Regions from separate parts of the Homo sapiens genome. Here region 1 is linked to region 2. The links come from fine-mapping of genetic effects on gene expression. Tissue or cell type: adrenal gland. Region 2 holds a variant in brackets; the other region holds the start of a gene. All regions are shown on one strand. Distances are from middle to middle.

What was found. PIP is the estimated chance that this variant, and not a neighbour inherited with it, causes the effect.
Region 1: it holds the start of TBX4, and the variant in region 2 is fine-mapped to the expression of TBX4 in adrenal gland (GTEx, PIP above 0.99).

The regions. Positions count from the first base shown.
Region 1 is chr17:61,449,047-61,457,148 of GRCh38, reverse strand. TBX4 (T-box transcription factor 4) reads right to left here and starts at 4,727. Exons shown (of 9, transcript NM_001321120.2): 1 at 4,572-4,727; 2 at 473-661. The coding sequence starts at 658. LOC124904042 (a long non-coding RNA gene) reads left to right here. Exons shown (of 2, transcript XR_007065872.1): 2 at 1-3,907. RefSeq lists enhancers at 1,353-2,233, 2,234-3,115, 3,916-4,757.
Region 2 is chr17:61,491,073-61,499,174 of GRCh38, reverse strand. No RefSeq gene overlaps it. Among named protein-coding and RNA genes, the nearest start is that of TBX4, 43 kb to the right of the region's middle. The variant T/C (reference allele first, on the strand shown) is at 4,040.

The sequences.
Region 1 (8,102 bases), 42 kb after region 2:
CCCAGGCGGCATCCCGTGCGCTGTGATCGTCCGATTATCACTGTGAAGCCCTCGGCGACGTCCCAGAGGCCTCGGATCCCCGCAGCGGCTCCCGTGCGCACCGGCGGGGTGGCCTCCTCCTGCCCCCTCGCCGTTGGGTCCCAGGCCCTCTACGGGTTGTTGGAGCTGGACACTTGGTCCAGGCTCGCTCAGATGCTACGGGGGTCTCCCTCTCTCTTACCGCCCTCTCCTCTATCTCTAGCTCTAGCTCTTGCTTGTCCCAGAGTAGCCCCGAGGGCTCAAAGTGGAGAAGGACCCAAAAGGCAGAGAAAGCGAGCCATGTCCAGTGGAGAACGAACGGGCAGACCGTCCTGAATGCAGCCAGGTCCTCCTGAAAGCGAGTCCTGCCGACAATCGGACGGAAAGACGGACACAGGCGGCCCCGCAGACAGACCGACGCCCGACTTCTACCCGACGGCTGGCGCAGCCCTACCTGCTCCGCGGCGGCGGCGGCGACGACGTCGGCCCCGGGTCCCGGGGGGCTGCCTAGCGCGGCTCCGCTGAGGCCCGGCGCTGCCAGCGCGGGCTCGGGGGCGTTGGCTGCGCTGGCCTCTCCGAGCGCTGGGCCCGGGGCCCGGAAGGCCTCCTCGCTCTCGGACAGGCCCTTATCCTGCAGCATCTCCTGCGGGCACAGCACACAACGAGTCACTCGCCCAGGTCCACACTCGCCAGAGGACCCCTGGCCCTCTCCAGCCGATTCCGGGACTTCGTGCGGGGCGCGGAGGCAGCCCTGGAGCACGTGGACCCCGCCCCCTCCTGAGCTGGAGGAGGGAACCCGCAAGGAAGGCAGGTCCCTCGCCTCCTCCCTTCAGGCTGTGGACCTGGGAGGGTCTGCGGCAGTTCAATGTCTGCCTGCCCCTGGGTGTGGGGTTCTGTGATGAGTAGGTCTAGGGGAGGGACCGCCCTCTCGGCATTGCCACAGCTGCACCCCGAGTCCCTCACTCCTACTGAGCTCCGGTGGAGCCTGAGGCCTGGGCCTTCTCGGCTGTTCCCCAATAACTGGGGTCCAGGCCTCTCTGTGGGCCCAGGACAGCCAGGACACCTCCTGGCCATGCAGGAAAGGAGAGCCAGGCTGGAGGGCAGGGCCCAGGCTCCTGCAGCTCCACACCTGTGTGCAGAGAGGGCCTCAGGACCTCAGGCCCAGCTCACCCATCTGCCCTCACCCAACCCCTCAGACAGCACTGAGGTAGAGACTTCCTGAACCAAAGGCTTTCACTCCAACACACTCCCCGTCCACACACATCCTCTTCCCGTTCTGGCACAGACATCCTCACACCCAAACACAGCCCCTCACACAGCATCCCACCAGCCTGAGCAGCCACACTCTCCTGGGTGACTGATCCAGGCTCTGCCCTCAGCCCAGGCCTCCCCTACCTGGTGCTCGAGTTCGAACCTACAGGCTCACTCAGGCACACTTTAGCGCCACAGGGCTCTGCTTTGGGCCTAAAGACCCACACCCTTCCCAGTGAAGGACCAGGCCAGCAGGCTGGGCCCATTCACAGGAACCGCTTAGCCCTGCCTGGCACAGCTACATTTCTTCGGCTGTCTTGGCTGATTCCCTCGCCTACTCAGGTGCCTGCTCCCTGCCCGAAGCAGGTCCTGGGGCCTCGGGATGAGAGCACAGCCTGAGAGGCCAGCCTGCCCGCATCCCTTAAGGGTGTGCCCCGCTTGCTCCGCTTCCCCTTTCCACCTCCCTGCTCTTCCCCATCCTGCTGGACCTGGGCGCTCCAGCGGAGCTTTCTGTAGGTCTGACGGCCCTTCTTGAGGCGGAATGCCCCGCCTTTCTCTTCCTACCTTCTTCCCGCTCTCCCCGGGCCCTCCCGGAGCATCCCCGGGCTCAGGCCTCTCGCCCATCTTGTTCAGAGGCCTCCTCATCCCGGGCTTAGACTTCGACTCCCAGGACCTCGCAAAGTAAACAAGCCAAGTGCAACCCAGGAGATAAAAAGGGGCCGGGGCCAGTCTGGGTTGGGAAAAACCCATAAAGATAAGGTTGACAGGCGGACCAGTCTTCGGCCACAGCCTGCAGGGAGTGAGACTCGCTGGACATGGCCAGCGCCAGCACCCGCCTCGGGCCACGTGCGAACGCGGGCCGAGCCTCGGAAACCTAGGAGTCCCCACACAGGGCCGCTGCGCCAGTAGGGTAGCTGCCCGCTCCGGCCAGCGCGCTGGGTCCAACTATATCTAGGGCCCCGGCGGGATCGGCTCCAGCGACCAAGCGATCCGCTGGTCCCAGATGTGGCGGCCTGCGGGGTCGCAAGGAGGGGCCGTCTCGCGCTTGGCCCGCATGGCCATGGGGTCCTCTGCTGGGCTCTTGTCACACCCGGAGCCGTGCAGCGGAGCCCTGCGGCTCGCGCCCTGCGCTCTCAGTCCTACGCGCTCAGCCCTGCCCTGTGAGGAGCTGGTTCACCGCCCGCGTCCACTGACGCCGGTCCCGCAGCTCGGACTGGGGACGAGGCCTGCTCAGTGCTCTCCCTCCCGGGCTCAGGGTTTGCCTCTTCCTTTTCTCTCCGCCACGAAGCCACATCCAGACCTCGGGACAGCTTGCCCCCTTCCCAGCAATTTCCTTTTTTCCACGCCCGGCTGGCCCGGGGCGGCCGTCCTCGCGGTCCTCTCGGACCTCGAGCTTGGGCGCGCTCGGCCGCCGCCAGCACCGCGGGGTCCCGCACTCAGCACCGCATAGCGGTCCGCTCTCGTCCTTCACATCCACTCCTCCGCGGGTGCGGCCCGCAACCTCCGCTGCCTTTGCGATGGGGTCTGTTGCTTTCAGCTGCCTCGTTTTCCAAAGACGACAGCATTTCTCTTTTCATTTTTAGGTTACTGGGGATATGTTTCTTGCACTAGGGGAACTGTTACTATTTCGTGCTTTTTAAAATATTTTAATTGTCCTTATTACCATAGTAGTATTTTGATCAGTTCGGGAACTTTGAGAATATCCTATCGCGTGGATTATTACTACTTTGTATCTTTAATACTGTATGGTTAAAGCCCTGCTTTGATTCGTTAGCTTACTGTTACTAAATTTGTTGTTTTCCTGTCACTGTTCCATCATTTCAGGGCCGCCTGGCACATTCATAATACTATTTCCAATATCGAGGTGACATAGTGAACAATAGGTCACGTTAATCTATTGTAATTTTTTATTCTTGCTTTGTATCCCTAATACGTTTCCGTTGCTTGCTCTTCATTTTGATTATACTTTGTCACGCTGTTTCAATAACTTCTTGTTTACCATAACTTGTTATATAATTGTTCTCAAAATTCATGTTAATTTCCCTCACATCCTTATAATACTTCTTGTTATCTAACCACAATTTGTTTTGTTAGGCTTGCTCATAACACTCCAGGTATTATTCTTCAACACACCCCGACAGTATCTTGTTACTTTGTCATTATTTGTAATGTTACAGATCTGAACTCGCTAGTTACTCATCACATCATTACTTCTTGTTATTTTGTCATACTTTGTAATATTGTTGTAGCTCTTAATACTCTGATTATTTTTCATCACATTGGTACAATACTTCTTATTACTCAACCATTATTTATAATGTTCTTGTGACTATTAATACATTGGTCATAAATTGTCATATTACTCCAGCAATTCTTGTTAATATGTCTTTATTTATATTACTATTGCTCCTAAGATTTTAGTTAATATTTCTTTTAATAGTTCACTGTAGTATCAATAATACATTATATTATTATATCACTACCACTAATAGTATTTCCCTTAATAGTATTTTCATTGTTCATCTTTCTCCTACAGTTCGTTTGCTAGTTTCCTACAGTTTGGTAATTTGTTACACTATTACTATATGTTATATTAGTGCAATTGGTTTTAATAAACAGTCCTTACATTGTTCCTCTATTTAGAATTACTTTGTCTTTAATCCTTTTAAAAATTGTGATTACTATTTTCACTTGATTCTGAAAGTGACTATGATTGTATTATTTGGAAGTTCACGTGTTATATCAGTTATGCCGATTAGCCCTTTCTTTGGTAATTGTTCACATTCCAATAATCTTTAATCATCGATCATTATTTATATATAATGTTCCTTGCTTTAATTTTGACTAGTCTATTGCATCAAAGGCTCTGAGTCTAGTGTTCTGATCACTCACATATCTACACGGATTTTCGCTCCAGTACCGGGGCCCTCTTCCTTGGCCTTGCATATTCTGCAAACACCAATTTCCAGGCCACCGCTCCGCCTGTCACGGCCTTGTTCTTAGGGTGCTGGCGCTGTCGATATTTCTATGCTCTTGGATCTCTAGACCCAATTCATCGCGTTACTCAGAGAGGAGGGCTCGTGCCCCAACTACTGGGTGTCGGGCCGAGGCGGCGGCCCGACCCAAGGCACTTCGCGCCGCCTTCCTGCAACTTTGACCGCCCCTGAAGTTCTTCCCCGGGTCGCGTGACTCACCCCTTTCCAGCTCATCCTCCTGTCCGTCCCCGCAGCCTAACCCTGAGCCCCTGTGGCCCCAGCCCCGCACGCCCAGCTCGTCCCCACTCGGCTGGAACCCACACTCACCCTAATTGCGGTGCCGCATGCGGAGGCGCCAGCGGCCCGAGGTCCCCTGCAGGTTCGGGTCCGAGGAGCGCGGGACGGCCGGGGCTCCGACTCCGCGCCGCTGGGTCAGGGTCCAGCTGCCTGCCGTGCCCTCGGGGCTGGACACATCCCGGCTCTGGAGCGGGCCCTTGATCTCCAAGGCTGCACTTTGGGGCCTCAATTCCCTCCTCCTCCCTCCCTCCCTCTGGGGCCGCCCCCCCTCCGCGCTGACGTCGCCGCTGTCAATCAGTCTGCGCCCGCTGTCCCCCGGGGAGGGGGGCTCCAGGGTTCCCCGGCGTCGCGGTCCCCAAGATCCCGAGCCCCACGCGAGCCGCCGGCTCCTCCACCGCGCGGCCCAGTGCCCTCCTCTTGGCCCTCGGGCCCCGCGAGCCGGGTAGGGGCTGGGAGCCCCGCATGGTTTAGATTAGAGAGGCGGGAAGCAAGGGCGAGCAGCCCGGCTCTCAGCCGAGGCTCGACAACCAGGAGGGCTCGCCTGGCCCCGCCGTGCCCGAAGACTAGGACGCTCCACGACCGGGTCTGGCCACCCCCTGCCGGCGCCCGCTTCCAGGCAGCGGCTTCTACGGATCCCCGGCCGCAGAGCCCCGCTCCCCAAGCCCTGCTCCCAGCTGTGCGCGCTGTTCATTTGGGAGCCCCGGTCCCGAGGTCGCAGGCGCACACGCGCCTCACAGGCCCACGCTCCGCTTCCCTACCATGCCCACCACGCGGCCTTGCACTTCCAGGCCCTGGGCACGGCCCTTCTGCTCACCCGCCCTCCTTGTCCCGGCCCAGGGGGCCGCGGGCGCTGGACCCGGCCTGGCGCGCCTCGAAGTCGGCCGCGGAGGTCAGGGGTGAGGACTGGGAGGAAGCCCGGTGGCCGGGTGCGGGGCGGCGGCGGCAGGGAAGTGCTGGGCCGGCCTCTGAGTGGAGCCGAGTCCGGCTCGGGCCTTGACAGAGCCCAGGCCGGGCTGCAAGGTGCCAGGCTTGGCAGAGCCTCCTGGGGAAACTGCGGCCCAGGGCCAGGATTCCGCGGCAGCTCCTTGAGATCCTGGAGAGCTGAAGAGGAAGCCCAATGCCTGCCCTAGTCTAGGAAGTGGAGACTGGGGAGCGTCCTGCTCCCAGCCACCCGGTTCTTTCCGCCTCAGAAACGGAGTCCCGCTCAGCACCTAGACCTCCCTGCCCAGCCTCTGAGCTCTCTGTCTCCACTTACCTCTGTTTCTCTCTGTCTGTACCTCCCACAGGACGCTGCCTTTCCACTAGCAGACGGACCCATGCGGACCCCAGCCCGTGCCCCAGCCTCCCCGCCTGTCACATGCCCAGAATCCTGGGGCAGAAATAGGCCTGCCCACCCATCTGCAAAGACAGCAGAATCCTCATCAATAAGGATCCCCAGAGTGGTCCCTTAGTGCTTAGCATGGGCTGCATCCCTCCCTCCACCAGTGTCCTCAACCAGCCTCTGTCCCTTTCCAGATTCTGACCTCAAAATCAGCTTGAAGGGGAGAGGACAGGGAAATTCTTTTCCTGGATGGGTCTGTCCCTGTTCTAATGCTAGGAAATGGAAAGCCAGCATCAATGCCTTCTTTACCACCCTGCACTCAAAGGTGGAAGCAAAAACGCCAACTCAGAAAAGCCAGTCGCTGCTGCTGTCAGGAGCCTGAAATCCACCTCAACAGTGGGCCGCTGCTCAAGTCCCTATCACCATTGCAGTACCAGGTCCCACCACCCTATCACCATTCCTCTCATGGAGTCTCAAACCAGGGAGGGGAAATAATATCTAAGAGGAGTGGAGGAGCAGAATCCTTCCCCAAACCTGCGGACTCCTGGAATGGAGAAAGGGAAGGCCCTGGCGTTTCAGGAGATGCCTGGGGAGTCGTGTTTCCTGTGTTAGGGAGACCTGGATGACATGCCTCAGCTTCTGCTCGCAAGCCCCCTCCCATGACCTCTCCAACAGCCTGTAGGGAAATCCCTTGCAAATAAATAGTATACAGACTAAGCAACCAACTACTGTGTGGAATGGTGAACAGGGAGGGCAGTGAATCACCAGGTACTATGGGAAGACTAGAGCTAGGCCAGACTCTGGAAAGAATTTGTTGACAGTCATTGGAGGAAGTTCATACTGAGATCGTATCGTATAGTTCTTTAATAAAACAAACAAACAAAAACAAACAAACTAGACTGGAACCTTCCTATAAGTGCAAGGCTTTCTGGAGACTGATGGCAGACAGTCTAAATTAATATCAACAGGTTCATGATGACATGGAGAAATGAGATATGGAAGGGACAGGTAAGCTTTTGGCAGTAAAAAGGAAGGGGCAAACCAGCCAGCAAGTGAGTAAATGAGAGCGGTTCTGTATGCACATTCCCCATTATTAGAATGGAATACCTCATTTAACTGACTCTAAGACACACATTTTTCACATTCTGGTATCTCTGAAACTGAGATGCATCTGATAGCTAGCGGTGTGTCATAGCTTAATTAGCAGCGTTTTTTCTTCTTAGTCGTATGTAAAATAATAGAAAAGCTTATAATGGATGCTGCATAGTATTTGCTGAAAAAGAGCCTGTGTAGAAGAGGAGAAGACCAATTTTTTTTTCTCCAAAACTACTTTGAGGAGTTCAAAATATGAAAACCCTCCTCAACTAGCTAAACAAATAACTGACGGTGCCACACATCGGTCACACTGATTTGGGTTGGCTTGGGGGAAAGTGCTCAGGTTTGGTAGCAGGCTCACCTTGGTTTTGAAACCTAGCTCTGATTCCTGGCTCACCATTTTGCAGCTATGTGACCTTGGGCAAGTTCATTAATGCTCATATAAAATGGGGATAATTACGCCAACCTACTAGCTTATTGTGAGGATTGCCTATATTAATGCATGGTTGATAAAGGCTAGCTCCCAAGTATTTTAAAAATTTATTCTACTTTTCTCTTTTCCGCAAAAGGCTTGAGGTGGTTTATAACCAGAATTAGCTAATAAAAACACAAGTAGAAAAACACATTAGGATCAAGGAAAAAGGAGTAAGCATATATGCTATCACTAAGTGCTGACAAAGTTGCTATAATTGAGAATAAAATCTGGCTTATGAGCCAGCAGAGCAACATGGTAGTTCTCTATATCAGAAATGTGGAAACAGTAACTCTTTGGTGAATGGTGAAGGAACAGACTTTGTCCTGGCCCTAAATTTTAAAAAGTAGTTTCTCGGCTGGTCGCAGTGGCTCATGCCTATAATCCCAGGACTTTGGGAGGCCTAGGCAGGCGGATCATTTGAGGCCTGGAGTTCAAGACCAGCCTGGCCAACATGGTGAAACACTGTCTCTACTAAAAATACAAAAATTAGCAAGACATGGTGGCGCATGCCTGTAGTCCCAGCTACTCTGGAGGCTGAGGCAGGGGAATCACTTGAACCTGGGAGGCAGAGGTTTCAGTGAGCCGAAATAGTGCCATTGCACTCCAGCCTGGATGATAGAGTGAGAGTCTGTCTCAAAAATAATAATAATAAATAAAATTTAAAAATAAA
Region 2 (8,102 bases):
AAGATAAATATCTGTTGTGAAATATCAGTAGACCCAATAAATGGCAGTTAGATTAGTCACCCCTCCCCACAAGAACCTCAGATAACAGAATTATCATCTAGAGATTATTTTAAAATTGTTTAAGATAATTAAATACAAAAAAGAAGAGATTGTGAACATCAGAAAAAGCAATAATTTTTAAGACTAAGCTGACTTGAAAAAGAATCAAATAGAGTTTCAAGGAATGAAACATACAATTGTCCTTGAAATTCAGAGTATTCATTGATTCCATGAAAGTGGAAAGTCTTAGTTAAATAAATGACTGGTTCTAACCATAGAAGCATAAACATGACCCCTGGTTAATTGTCCTTTTGTACTGCGGCCATCAGACAACCCTCCATCTTTGGTTGTGACGTGCTTAACACCAGCAGACATGGAATAAGCAGGAATGTTCTGAATGGGCTGGACATCCCTACAAACTCCTTCCCAGGGTATTTGTCTGTCTGTCTTAAATACTAAATGTGGCATTTTTAGTGAAATACCACCAAAAGGGTAATGCTGAAAAATGACCTAGCAAAATAGAAATTCAGAGGGAGCTTCCTGGTGGCTACACAGTTACTATTGGAGGGTTTTTTTTTTAATGCTACCTACACAAAATGAGCCCCATCTGGCCTGGTTCAGGCTTAGGCTGTGTTGCAGGCAGCTGACATAATTCCCCATGTTTAATTTCAACACTTTCCCCAATCTGCATAGTGGAACCAGCCCTTGCAGATCTTGGAGTCAGATTGGAATTTAAATTCTAGTTTCACCGCCTACCACTGTATCTGGCCCAGAGTTGACACTCAGTCTCTGAGACCTCCTTTCCCCTCCCACCTCCAGAATCTTTATCAAAGCCTCAGGACACACAGTGGCTGTGCTTCTGCTCATCTGAGTCCTAAGGACCCTCAGGAAATGGAGATAGTAGCTACTATTTACAATTACTCTTGCCAGTCATTGCCCTCTGTGCTTTATATACGTTACTTCATTTCTTTTTCTTTTTCTTTTTCTTTTTCTTTTTTTTTTGAGACGGAGTCTCACTCTGTTGCCCAGGCTGGAGTGCAGCGGCACAATCTCGGCTCACTGCAGCTTCCGTCTCCCAGGTTCAAGTGATTCTCCTGCCTCAGCCTCCCAAGTAGCTGGGATTACAGGTGCCCACCACCAAGCCCAGCTAATTTTTGTATTTTTAGTAGAGATGGGGTTTCACCACGTTGGCCAGGCTGGTCTCGAACTCCTGATCTCAGGTGATCCACCTGCCTCGGCCTTTCAAAGTGCCGGGATTACAGGCATGAGCCACCGCGCCCAGCCACGTTACTTCATATCGATTCTCACAACTACCCTGAGACATATACATATATAATTTTCCCCATTTTTTAAAATAAAGAACCTGGTACTATTTTTTATTTTTATTTTGCCCAAGATCACACCCTACAGCATGTCAGAAAGGAGATTTGAACCCATGTCTGTTCTAGGTTTTTTCCATAACACTAAGTAGCCTGACTTGTGGCTTATGGTAATATTTTCTAAATCCAGCTTCTTTCTGAAAAGACTTCATTTTCACAAAGGTTTAAACACTTGCAAGTAAACAAAAGGGGTGGGTTCTGTGGTCTTCACGACAGCCATGTTCCCACTACAGGCCTGGCTGCTCCCTCAGCTGGGAGCTGCTGCCCACTCTTATGGAAACTGCATCCAGGACAGGCTTTATTGATGCTGCCTTCAAAGCCAAGGCGGCCATCTGAGAGGATGGAAGAAACCAGTAAAGTATGGGACTCTGGTGAGCCATCCCAGGTACAGTTGTGTTTTTATGCACCAGCACATTTGTGGAGCAAATTTGGTGTCCTCATAACGGCAGTTCATGAGTACAAGTGAGGTTCAGTTCTTTGTGTAAACAGGGGAGAAAGCCTGTGTCTGAATATAATTCCGACGGCATCAAGGTCATTTTAGAGCTGGTGGAGCTCTATTTGTCTTAGGAAATCTCGAAAACTTTTATAGGGAATTCGGAAAATATTTTCGGCCAGCAGGAAAGATAAAATCCCTGCACACAAAGTGCAGGCATGGGCCCAGAGACTGAACAGACAGACTGCTGTAAAACCCCTGTTTAATAAGGCATTAAAATGCCATCGACCTGGACACATTTTTTAAAAAAAAAAGAGCTATGAAAACAAATACCATTCAAATAATTAGGATCTTATGCCTGAGGCCAGCCTTGATGCCAAGCAGGGACTTCCCTGCAGGAATCGGAGCTGAGCCTGATTCCCAAAAGGAGGAATCAGCCAAGACAAAGGCAGCTCTGGGCCTGGGTTTTTTCCCAGCCCCCTTCGACTGCCTGCCTCTAGATGCTGAAGGCAGGGTATCTACAGTCGTTTCCCTCCCCACATCTTGGGTAACTTTCTAGTCCAGTAGCTCCAGTGGGGGTCGTGTGCCCCCTGAGGCTGACTGACCTGCCTTCAGGAAGGCCCGCGGGGAAGGCCTTGAAGGCTGAGCCCTTGTACCTTTCTGCTCCATAAAGGACAAGGAGGCATTTGAAGGCCTGCTCTATTGGGAACTATGTGCCAAATGGGAGTGAAGGTTGGATAGTGAACATTTGTTTATGAACGTAGCTGTGAGGGGGAAAAAAGATGTCTTTTCATTAGCTCCTGCAAACACGGAAGCTGCCGCTGAGCTATTTCCTGCCACCGTAGCTTCTGAATAGTTGAAGGCCAGGTGCCCAGTGGCACATTACTTTACCACCCCTAATATCGCCCCCCCAGGGTAGTTTCCAAGGGCTAAGCCTCAGAAATCTGAAAAATAAAGAACGTGTCATTTTATTATTTCTGAAATGGTTGTTTGTTTGTTTGGGGGGCACCAGTATTGCACAAGACTGATGCTTAGCAGGTCTAATTGAAGGAGCTTTCATAAAATTGAATGTTAAATCCTATTGTGTCTCTGGTACAATTTGAGAGGACCTCTTTATTTTTTGCCTTTTCATTCTCTTCCTTTAAAAAATTCTCATATGAACTTGTATCAGTGATGGGTAACTCTGCTTAAGGAGTCCCATAGAGAAAGTTGTAACTATCTGAATATATTTCTCATGTTTGATTTCTTCTTCCTCCTGTACATTTCCTTTTCTTCCAAGAGATTGTAATCACAGCAAAATTTCAAAATGAGAGAGCAGAGAAAGAGAGAGAGAAGAAAGGCGGGGGGAAAGAAAGAAATATAAAGCCCTCACATTTTCTGGGGTTAATTTGAATTGAACCAGTTGGTTTCATTTTGCGATACAAAAGAAAAATTCAGGCCTTAGGGCCTAAGACTTTCATTAAATTCAGCTTTGGCAAGTTCTAATAATACAGGGGTTTATTAAAAGCGTGAAAAATGTCATTGCCGAAGCCTTTCCTAAGCCGCGGCCTCACCTCTCAAGTATGACTCACGCTTCCTCCGTGGCCGCCTGAGCTGTAAAGTTGGGGGCAGGATATTTGAGGTCCAGGGAACCGGTTCCTTGAATCTCTCTTGCCATTTGGCCAGGATCACGTCCCAATTAGCGACCTTGCCATACAGAGCAGTAGCTGGACAGCAAAAGTGAGAGAGGGGCTGAGTGCTCAGGCCTGTTGTAAACGATTAGTCCAAAAGAGTAGCGCGAAACTTAGAACCGCTGTCCCCGGCAGGAGGAAATGAAAGGATCAACACGAGAGGAGCACTGTGGCCAATTGTTCCCGGCCACAGCCACAGGCTTTTCTGTGTGTGCCGGAAATTGACCTCCCCAAAAGCCGAGGATGCAGGCGGGGCAGGGAGATTGATAAGGCAGGTGATGCTAAATCATCCCCCTCTCAGAGCTAATGGGATTGGTCAGTGCCTTGCCAATCATTCCCCCTCCTTACCCTATAAAAATCAGTGGGTCTTTTCGAGAAGAAATGAGCATGGACTGGCACTGATTGGACCAACAAGAAGCTTACTCATCGCAATCCTTTTCACTTCTTACTACGTATTTTCATTCAGAAGCATCTCATTTGGCCTGTGGACCAAGGCCAGGAGGTTGGCAACACAGATA[T/C]TACTCATCCCTTTTTATAACAGAGGATGTTGAAGCCAAAAAAGATAGAGGGACTTGCCCAAGGCCTCCAAAAACACAGCAACAAAGCTGGGACTTTCTTTTGACAATAGATGTATCCCAGTGTCACCGAGTGTGGCAACAGACTTGGAAGGAGGCAGCAAAGCTCAAGCCATCCCTTCCTGGGGGCACTAGTGAGGATGGCTGGCTGACCTGCTGGAGGCACATTCTTTTCTAAGTGTCCTTGAATGCTGTCCTGTGTCCTGGATGAGCCCCAAACCCCTGGCAGTGGGGGGCGCTCAGAGGGCTGGGAGGACCAGGCAGGAATTCCCCAGCGTCACTCTCCTGCCGCTGGCCTTGTGCACCTAACCGCACGTAGATCTGGACTTTGGCGTCTGGTAAAGGAGGCTTAACTGTGAGACAGGAGACGCAATAAAGTCAATAAACAGAATTTCCCAGAAAAGAAAAATCTCACTCTTTTAGACATCTAAAATGAGTCCCGTGCAGACAGGCAAATTATGTGGGGGGAAGGGGAACAACTTGAACTGAGCACACGTTTCATCTCTATCGTCTCATTTAATCTTTTCTATAACCTTGAAAGATAAGGAGTATTTTATTGCCCCTAATTAACGTGGAGAGACAGGCTCACAGAGATTAGGCAGGCATCTAATGAGGAGTGAAGCTCCAGGCCTCTTCTCTTTCCACTCCTGGGCCTGGCCTCTCCACCCAGAGCTCTGGTGATCCACCTCTGGGAGGACGGTGGAGAGCCCAGGGCATGACAGGAATGGCAGAGGTCCCAGCCTGTGAGCAGAGCCTCATGTTGACTTCCCCATCCCCCTGTGGTCTCCATACATTTTTAAATCTCACCTCCCTTCAGCAAAAAGCCTTAAGGCTGGACGAAGTAGCTCACACCTGTAATCCCAGGACTTTGGGAGGCCGAGGCAGGTGGATCATGTGAGGCCAGGAGTTCCAGACCAGCCTGGCCAACATGGTGAAACCCCATCTCTACTAAAAATTTAAAAATTCGCTGGGCGTGGTGGTGTGCATCTGTAGTCCCAGCTACCCAGGAGGCTAAGGCATGAGACTCGCTGGAACCTGGGAGGCAGAGGTTGCAGTGAGCCGAGATGGTGCCACTGCACTCCAGCCTGGGCAACAGAGCAAGACTCCATCTCAAACAAACAAAGAAACCTTAAAGCACAAGCTACCAATATCTTATTTACAAATTGATTTACAAATTATACATATGTACTACTATACAAATATAGACATTCGATATTTGAAAAGTATTAGAATAAGTTTAAAATGTAAGATAAATAGAGAAAGAAGTTCTACCTCCTCCGTCCCTAACTTTGCTCCAGAGAGGTCTGCTATAGATTGAGACAGAGCCCTGCCATGGCTGAGAAATTCGTGATTGCAAACATGATTTGGGAATCATCATCCTTTAGCGCTGCAAGCGTTGTGAGGAGCTGTGCGGAAGAAAAGGAGGCTCAGAGAGAGGGGAGACACGGCCAGCATGTGACAGATGCGACTAGGACCACATCTTCTCATGCTGAGTCCCAAGCTCCGTGCTCTCCTCTACACTGATAGAAAAAGAAGCCAAAGGTTCATTTTCTTGGGCCAGAAAATTACATTTGGGTCTTTCATGGGACAGACTGGAGATTAATGCCTGAACCTCCTACGTTGTGTCCCGCATACATTCAGGTCCACAGCCGCCCTGAAGAGACAACCACTGGCTTTTCAGTCTGGGCCACAGAGCATGTGGGCCAGGCTACCAGCACGTGGGGGCTAGGGAGAAGGAGGACTGTGCTGTGCCATATTTGATGCTATTAAAAGCAGCTCGCATAGTTTCCATCATTCCTCATGGAGCTGCGTCATTTCCCAGACCCAGCTCTTGCTTCAGGCACCCTAGTTAGGAATTCTGGAAGTTAAAGAAAAGTGATTCCCAAACAAGTCTCTTCTAAGTCATCCCAAGGAAGCATATTTTGACCAAGAGTTGGAAAGGCAAGGAAAGGACACCCTAGCTTTGCTATCCAAGCCAAGTGGGGCTTGGGGACATCCCCAAAACACTTTATTTTCCCCCAGACACTTTAAACAGTTGTTTTCGAGGTACCTGAACTATTTCCTGACTCTACCAGCTTGGGCAGAGCTGACTCACCCACAGGGGGAGGGCGAGAGCTAGTGCAATGACAGCCCCTCCTTTGATCAGCCCCTTCTCTGTGAAGTGGAGGGCAAAAGACAACCCAAGTTCATGGTCCAGTGGGGATGGGTGGTTGGAGTTGGTGGAGGTGACTATAAATTATCATCCTCTAAAAGGGTAACCCTCTGCCATTTTGCATGCTTCAAGTCATAAACTTATTTTACAACATGTTTGTTTCCTTTTTGTTAATAAACTCAAAGTCACTAAAAATACACATCGATTGGGTCCAGTGGCCTCAGAGGACAAGGGAAGAAGGCAAGACCAGCACAGAACACGCAGTGGTAGTGGTGATAATGGCAGCAGTAGTGGCATCTTAGAGAAAAAAGCGAAAGCTTTGGGTTGGAGAGACTTGGGTTTGAAGCCAGTTCTGACCCTTAGCCCATAACCTCGAGCAAGTTTCTTCACCTCCTTGAGCCTCAGTTTCCTCCTCTGTGAGGCAGTGGTGATAATGCCTCTCCTACCAAGTTGTGGGGAGGATTAGATATAATAATCCTAATATAGTAGAGTGCCAAGTCCAATGGCTGATGGCTGATTACTAACAAACTCAGTGTAAATGTCTTTTTCTTTTCTCATTTTATAGATGGGAAACCTAAAACTCAGTTCAGATTCAACCCTCCTTTTCTGAATCTGAAATCTAAAGCAATGCCCTTCCATAAGAGGGGAAGGAAGGAGGGTGGGAACCAGCATTTGTTGAGTTCCTGTTTAGTATCGGAACATCAGGGACAGAGAATGTGCCAAGCCCTCTCACATATGTTATTTTAATCTCCATGATCACAAGAAGCAGATGTTATTTCCAATATTATCTCCATTGCATTGACAGGCACAGAAGGAATGGCTATACTTACAGGCACAAACCAGAAAGTGACAGAGCCAAGTATCGAACCCAGGATTTCTGGCTTAAGAGGCAGAGTTGGTGCCACTAACTCACGGATGCTGAGACATCTACTTCAGTGAGATAGCATTTACCCCTGAGGGGAAAAGGGGAGATCAGAGTGGAAAATTCAGCACCTATTCTTGGTAGAAGGCTAGAAAAGAAGCAGCAGCAAGGTAGGTCTTAAGTCATCAACTCTTTTATTTTTTTATGAGATGGAGTCTCATTCAGCCACCCAGGCTGGAGTGCAGTGGCCTAATTGTGGCTCACTGCAACCACCGTCTACTGGATTCAAGTGATTCTCCTGCCTCAGCCTCCCAAGTAGCTGGGATTACAGACACCCGCCACCATGCCCAGATAATTTTTGTATTTTAGCAGAGATGGGGTTTCACCATGTTGGCCAGACTGGTCTTGAACTACTCACCTCAGGTGATCCGCCCGCCTTGGTAGAAGTCATCTTGCGCCCGGCCAAGTCATCAACTCTTAAGGCTGCAGGTAGCCAGGAGGCGTAAAGGATAACTGGCCCACGGGCGCAGTGGCTCACACCTATAATACTAGCACTTTGGGAGGCCGAGGCGGGCGTATCACCTGAGGTCAGGAGTTCAAGACCAGCCTGGCCAACATGGTGAAACCCCGTCTCTACTAAAAATACAAAAACTAGCTGGGGGTGGTGGAGCATGCCTGTAACCCCAGCTACTCAGGAGGCTAAGGCACAAGAATGAGAATCATCTGAACCTGGGAGGTGGAGGTTGCAGTGGGCCAAGATGGTGCCACTGCACTCCAGTGTGGGTGGCTGAGCGAGAACTTGTTTAAACATAAATAAATAAATAAATAAATAAATAAATAAATAAATAAATAAAACCTGGCTCAGACTTTGTCAAACCTGATGCTGGAGGATCCTCTACAGAACTCACCAACCAAGCCTCCAAAGACCCTCTGGCCATTGGCCTCCCCGTTTTCGATCAGCTCCCAATTCCAAAGAGCCCTACTTGGGACTG